2 linked regions of the Homo sapiens genome follow. The protein of the gene in region 1 interacts with the protein of each later gene in a biochemical or structural test. Each region holds a gene or a part of one and is shown on either strand. Other genes may lie near its edges. The genes, in order: GTF2F2 and DYNLT2B.

Region 1 (3,821 bases):
AGATTAATGGGTTATCATGGGAGTGAAATTGGTGGCTTTATAAAAAGAGGGAGAGGAAGAGAGACCTGAGCTAGCACGCTCAGCCTCCTCACTAAGCGATGTAAAAAGCCTCTTACCAGACGTGGCCCTTTGATCCTGGACTTCTCAGCCTCCAAAATTTTAAGAAACAAATTATTTTGCTTTAAAAATTGCCCAGCTTCAGGTATTCTGTTATAAGTAACAAAAAACAGACTAAGATAATATATCTTTAAATGGATACTATGTCCCCGACTTTATATCAGTTACCAAAGCTTGGCCTCCTTGATGAGTAACTTTCACTCTTTCTAGTTGCTTATGTAAGTCACATACTGGCAAACAAGAGAAAAAGACGGGCCCTAAGCAAAGTTTCTCTAGCCAATAATTTTACTTATAGAAATGAAGGTTTTGGCCAGGAACGGTAGCTCACGTGTAATCTCAGCACTTCGGGAGGCTGAGGCATGTAGATCACCTGAGGTCAGGAGTTCAAGACCAGCCTTGTCAACATGGTGAAACCTCATCTCTACTAAAAATCCAAAAATTAGCCAGGTGTGGTGGTGGGCGCCTATAATCCCAGCTACTCAGGAGGCTGAGGCAGGAGAATCGCTTGAACTCGGGAGGTGGAGGTTGCAGTGAGCAGAGATTGTGCCATTGCACTCCAGCCTGGGCAACAAGAGCAAAACTCCATCTCAAAAACAAACAAACAAAACACCCCACCCCCAAAATAAATTATAATTTGAACATATTGGTAAATTTTATATTATTACATATGTTAAGTGAACTAAATATAAGTAATGTATTAAATGTATTTAAGTACCTTGTCCAGGACTATTTGGCTAAATGGTAGAGCTGGGACTTGAACTAGGATCTCATACTCCAAATCCAGGTTCTTTCCATTATACCAGAACACCCCCTTTCCTGGACCATTGATCTTCATGCTAGAATAGATTCCTCAAGTCTCTTGGGTACTGATGACCATTAGTACAGATTCACTTATGTCCTCGAATCCTTTTAAAGGGGGATAGTTGCCTACTTGGGGGAGAGCTAGACTTTGGCAACTTTCTTTCCCAGTCAATGGACTGGAATCCATGCTGACCACTTCCTGCCCTCTCCTCTAGGAGGAGGTAACTACCTCTGGCCTACCCCCAGCCTGGGGAAGGCATTCCACACTTTCTTGGCACTGGCTCTTTGCCCCAACCTCACTATAAATGACGTGAGAGGCCTGCCAAAATCCATCTGAAGAAAATATGGTGGCCCTTGGAGACTGAGGATTTTCTTTTTTCAAATCAATTCATGAGATATTTGCTGAATTTTTACCATCTTTTACACTATGGGGTATATGAATATTTAGGGATAGGAATAGCATACAACTCTGCCTTCAGGAATCTTATGCTTATTGAGGCAATTTAGTCTCTAAATAATAAAACTATTATTTAAAAAGTTAGTTTTGAGATCAGCGGCTTCTATGAGAATCTGATACAAACTATGGATGATATGTTCCCCAGAACAATTCATACATTTTTGCAGATTTTCAGGAAGTTAATGGATCCCCTTAAGTCCATCCACTGGTTAGGAATTAAGAAGCTCTGTTGTAAGAGATTCACTGAGTACTACCATATAAAAAATATCTTAAGAACCAAAACCAAAAGACACACTAGTAATACTTGTTCTTTGATGCAAAATGAATAAACCTTATATCCCATGTGAAGGCAAAGAAACTGCTTTCCCTAGTATCATCTGAATGCCCCTCTACAAGTGATTATTTTCCATATCTAATTTTTTGTGTTTAATTCCATGAGAATCTCGTCTGTTTTCAGAGTTTCTGGAAGGGTCTTTTCATACAGATATATTTATATATATAAATACAAAGATAAATTTCATTAAAACCAGAAGAAACACAGCTTAGCTAATGAGTTATTTATTCTATTTCAAAAAAAATTTTTAATCTAGCTTAGAATGCTGTTTCTAAGGCTTTGATGCCAAAGGGAGTGAAGTCATTGGGATGAATTGATAATACTCCACCATGAGCACTTTCTTCTTATTAAAAAGTAAATCTTTTGGAATTCAAATTAATTTCTTAACAAAAGGCAAGGGTTGATGTATAATAGTAAAGAAATATCTGCAGGAGAAACTGTATAATGAACATTAAAATTTCATAAATCATTTCCTAAAGCTTTGTATAAATAAAAAAAATCAAGTCCTTTCACAAATAGGTTATTTGGTTATGTTAAGATGTTTTTTAAAATTGGTTATTGTTACATATTCTGAATCCAATAAATGGAGCAGCAAGAATCAACAGATTCTTGAGTATACCGGCAGAGTAGACAAAATGGTAAAGGAAATGAGATAAAAGGGTTTCCATTCAATTTTCTTAAACCTATAAGTAAATACTCAGTCTGATACTTTGGTGACATGTGGTGGAGAAAGTTAAATGGAAAACAATGTGACTCAAAGACTAGAAAAAGAATTTGAATTTCTTATTGTTATCATCATTTTAAATGGATTATTAATGCAAATTACTAGTAAATGCACAAAAGCCTAGAGAAGAGATAAAAATGACTATAAAACAAACATAAACTTTCTAAAATACGAATTTGTTAAATTTGTCCTTAAAAATGGGGAACAGGCCAACCTAATCACAATCTCTGCAAGCATAATTTGAAAGTGCAGTTCAGTTCAGGTTTAAAAGGACCTACACAGATTCTAATTAAAAAAAAAAAAAAAAAAAATCCACAGAAAACAATTCACAAGACAGGGATAAACCCTCCCACAATGACAAAACAGTATAATTCTTTAAAGAATGCGATTTTTCTATGAGGCATGTTTTCCAAAAAAAGGGAAGGAGTTAAACTTTCTCAGAGGAAGATAGGGAAACAAAATAAAGACCAGAAATGGTATCAACAGATTTCAGGCTTAATGTCAAGAATAAATGAACATGAGGATAATTTCTTTTCTTCATAAATAATTATTAAGAGTACTAAAATGTAAAATAAAAGCTGATGTTACCAAAAATGGCTGCATTAAGACATCTTTTCTGAGTGTTGTCATAAAATTAGTCATTAGCATAGGTAAATGTGAACTAAATCATGTATGACACACTTTCAGTAATGTCGTGTTAATGAAGGAGGGCATATTCAAAGGATCAGTATGAACATATACATACCACAGGTTGCTTTGTGATGTCCACCAAGTCCTTAAGATTATAGTATTGATGTTTCTCAAAGGCTGAAAATAGCATGTCTAAAACATGTTGTTTATCAGCTCGAGCTCGCTTTCCGTCTTCTTTCTTTTTCCTTTCATATTCGATCTATATGCAAACAGCAAAGGAAATAAAAGCATCAATTCAACATGCTCACTCTAAAACACAGGCATTCTCTTTTTTTTTTTTTTGAGACAGAGTTTTGCTCTTGTTGCCCAGGCTGGAGTGCAGTGGCATGATCTCAGCTCACTGCAACCCCCACCTCCTGGGTTCAAGTGATTCTCCTGCCTCAGCCTCCCGAGTAGCTGGGATTACAGGTGCCCGCCACTACGCCTGGCTAATTTTTTGTATTTTTGGTAGAGACGGGGTTTCACCATGTTGGCCAGGCTGGCCTGGAACTCCTGACCTCAGGTGATCCACCTGCCTCAGCCTCCCAAAGTGTCGGGATAACAGGTGTGAGCCACCGTGCTTGCCCAGGCATTCTCTTTTGAGTCATCCATTAACGACTAGATCGTAAGTTTCGAGGCAGCAGGCCTCTGAACAGTAGTTCAGAACCTGGGACCTGTTACTCCTGGGGTCCCCGTATCTTTAAGGCTCTAAGTTAGTA
Region 2 (3,843 bases), on another chromosome or scaffold:
AAATAAGCAGACCCTCAATAAGGAACTGGCAAAAATAACAATATGGTATAACCTATTGAAATAAATGCCGCTATTAAGTCATGCATCTTAAAATCATAATGCAAATAAAATGACATAAAAACTGTTCATAACATCATGAGAAATGAAAAATGAGGGTACAAAATTATATGTTTTTTAAACCTTGGAAATAAAAAACATTGGTAGAAAATATACCAAAATTTTTACCATTGGTTATGTTTGAACAATTGAAATGGCTTTTCCCCTACTTTTTTCTCTGTGTTCCAGTGTAACAAGAATATAGTAGGGCCGGGCGCAGTAGTTCACACCTGTAATCCCAACACTTTGGGAGGCTGAAATGGATGGATCATGAGGTCAGGAGTTTGAGACCAGTCTGGCCAATATGGTGAAACCCCGTCTCTAGTAAAAATACAAAAATTAGCCAAGCGTGGTGGCACTTGCCTGTAGTCCCAGCTACTTGGGAGGCTGAGGCAGAAGAATCACTTGAACCCAAGAGGCGGAGGTTGCAGTGGGCCGAGATTGTGCCACTGCACTCCAGCCTGGGCGACAGAGAGAGACTCTGTCTCAAAAAAAAAAAGAAAGAAAGAGAGAAAGAGAGAGAGAGGGAGAGAGAGAGAGAGACAGAGAGAGAGAGAGGAAGGAAGGAAAGAAAGAAGGAAGGAAAGAAAGAAACAGAACATAGTGTAACAAAATCAAAACATTAAAAATATAAGGCCTAAAACACAACAGATTCAGTTGTCAAACTACTAACATCTTTATTTTGTCAAGATATTTAACAATATTAAAAAGTTCAGATTTCTTCATGGTCATGTCTTTTACCAGCTTTTCAAAGATTCATTCAGTAGTAGAAACAGCCAAATGCTGCTACAACGCAGAATAAACTGTCCTAAAAAATAAATACAACACACACACACATCCAGAATGTTAGTACTAAAGAGGGAATGAGAGCAGCACAGGCAACTGAAACTAACACCATCTCAGATCTTTCCAATTTTTTTTTTCTTTTTTGAGACAGGGTGTCACTCTATCACCCAGGCTGGAGTGCAGTGGTGTGATCTCAGCTCACTGCAGCCTCGACCTCCTACACTCAGGCAATCCTTCTACCTCAGCCTCCAGAGTAGCTAGGACCACAGGTGCCTGCCACCATACCAGGCTAATTTTGTTTATTTTTTGTAAAGATGAGGTCTCACTATGTTGCCCAGGCTGTTCTTGAACTCCTGGGATCAAGCAATCCACCCATGTTGGTCTCCAAAAGTGCTGGGATCATAGGCGTGAGCCACCTCACCCAGCCACCAATTTTCAATCAGGAAGACTTTTTCCTTCTTCAAGAAGTGAAGGGTTTCCAGAGTATAGCTACACTATTGCTTGCCTGAGGGTGACTACAAAATTGCTTGCTAAAAGGTTAGGATGGGTAAAGAATTAGATTTTCTGAATGCAAAAATAAAATGTGAACTAATGAACTTTAGGTAATACATATTCATAAAATAATTATTCACATATTTCCTGATTTATCACAGAAATAATGTATGAAATGCTTTGAGTTTCTTGGAGTAAACTCCATTACTCATCCCAAGAAACCATATTATAAGTATCACTGATAATAAGAACAACAGGACCTTGTCATAAATTCTGGATAAGAGAAATAGTCTCTGGGTGTTTGTTCTTAATTGATAAAATTTACTTGTCCATCTTTTAGTTCAGAATCACAAAATGCTTTCCAGAGCCCAGTCAAATTGCTTAAAACATTTTTAGGCATTTATTACAAGATTTCCACCTGCCTCAGCAACTCCTGCACCACTAACCTCACCTCCAGCCTGGTAATGATGGGATTAAAACAATTCCAACTCAAGTACCTGATGATTAACCAAAAGCAAAATTCTTTGGTTTAGCCCAGCTCCCTGGCTCCTTGGGTGGATAACTCTGAACTGTGTTCTACGACAGTGCTGTGATAAAGGACCTGCTTTGTTTTTAACTTCCGGTCCTTCATGGAAGGATGCTTTTGTAAAATGCAATAAAAATAGGTAACTCAGAACATGAAATGAAAAAAAGGAACATACAAATACAGCCCCAATTTTTTTCTTAGATTCACTGCACAGAAGATTACTTTGTCAAATTGCTGTAAGAGTTTCTAAACCAACCCTTATACTCAGTGTATTGTTTACCTCATCATGGACCTGTAACAAACAGGTCACAGAGCCGTGCTGGTCTGTGCACCCCACTGTGAGTGGCCCTGTTCTACAGCACCACCCAGAGTTCTCCAACAGGACTGAGCCCTGTCATCCAGCAGTTTTCCGCTCAATACCACATGATTTTCCCTCCTTTCTCATTTCCTCTGCCTCTACTAATGTTTCCTGGAATCTCCCAAATAAAGTGCTTTTTTTTTGAGACAGAGTCTTGCCCTCTCGCCCAGGCTGGAGTGCAGTGGCACAATCTTGGCTCACTGCAACCTCCGCCCTCTGGGTTCAAGCAATTCTCCTGCCTCAGCCTCCCAAGTAGCTGGGACTACAGGCGCCCGCCACCTTGCCCGGCTAGTTTTTGTATTTTTAGTAGAGATGGGGTTTCACCATGTTGGCCAGGCTGGTCTTGAACTCCTGACCTCAGGTGATCCACCCGCCTCGGCCTCCCAGAGTGCTGGGATTACAGGCGTGAGCCACCACACCCAGCCTAAAGTTTTTTATTACATATTTGTTCATTTGAGTATTGAGTGGCCCCCACTGGATGTTAATAGGCAGAAACCATGCCTGTCTTATTCATCATTTTGTCCCTAGCCCCTCAGGTGCAGAAGCTGACACATAATAGGAGCTCAGAACTATTTGTTGAATGAATGAATTGTATCATCTAAAGATGCATTTTTTGGCCAGGCCCAGTGGCTCATGCCTGTAATCCCAGCACTTTGGGAGGCCAAAGCAGGCAGATCACCTGAGGTCAGGAGTTGGAGACCAGCCTGACCAAATAGTGAAACCTTGTCTCTACTAAAAAATACAAAAATTAGCCGAGCGTGGTGGCATGCACCTGTAGTCCCAGCTACTCGGGAGGCTGGGGCAGGAGAATTACTTGAACCTGGGAGGCAGAGGTTGCAGTGAGCCGTGATGGCACCACCACTCTCCAGCCTAGGTGACAGAGTGAGACTCCGTCTCAAAACAAACAAACAAGATGCATTTTTTTTTTTTTTTTTGAGACAGAGTCTCGCTCTGTCTCCAGGCTGGAGTACAGTGGCACAATCTCGCCTCACTGCAACCTCTGCCTCCCAGGTTCAAGCAATTCTCCTGCCTCAGCCTCCCGAGTAGCTGGGATTACAGGCACCCAACACCACACCTGGCTAATTTTTGTATTTTTAGTAGAGACGGGGTTTCAGCATGTTGGCCAGGATGGTCTCAATCTCTTGACCTCATGATCCGCCCGCCTCGGCCTCCCAGAGTGCTGGGATTACAGGCATGAGCCACCGTGCCTGGCAAAAAAAACCATCTTCTTAGCTTGACTATTCCCCCAAAGATAGCTGATAAATTAAGATTTACATAGTACTTCCCACTGTCCAGCCCCTGATCCCTAGGGTAGTTAAGCATAAAATAAAACTTTGGTGGGGCTGGGCGCAGTGGCTCACGCCTATAATCCCAGAACTCTGGGAGGCCGAGGCGGGCCGATCACCTGAGGTCGGGAGCTCCAGACCAACCTAACCGACATGGAGAAACCCTGTCTCTACTAAAATTACAAAATTAGCCAGGTGTGGTGGTGCATGCCTGTAATCCCAGCTACTCGGAAGGCTGAGGCAGGACACTTCAACCCGGGAGGTGGAGGTTGTGGTGAGCTGAGATTGTGCCATTGCAC

What was found.
Region 2: the proteins of GTF2F2 (region 1) and DYNLT2B form a complex in vitro, tested with the Homo sapiens proteins (one study listed by BioGRID).

What each region holds. Positions count from the first base shown.
Region 1 is NC_000013.11:45,266,734-45,270,554, reverse strand, and holds part of GTF2F2 (general transcription factor IIF subunit 2), read right to left. Parts: intron 3,323-3,821; coding exon 3,179-3,322; intron 1-3,178. UniProt on the Homo sapiens protein: TFIIF is a general transcription initiation factor that binds to RNA polymerase II and helps to recruit it to the initiation complex in collaboration with TFIIB.
Region 2 is NC_000003.12:196,290,471-196,294,313, forward strand, and holds the end of DYNLT2B (dynein light chain Tctex-type protein 2B), read right to left. Parts: intron 905-3,843; coding exon 857-904; coding exon of another isoform or gene 834-856; 3' UTR 749-833; downstream 1-748. UniProt on the Homo sapiens protein: Acts as one of several non-catalytic accessory components of the cytoplasmic dynein 2 complex (dynein-2 complex), a motor protein complex that drives the movement of cargos along microtubules within cilia and flagella in concert with the intraflagellar transport (IFT) system.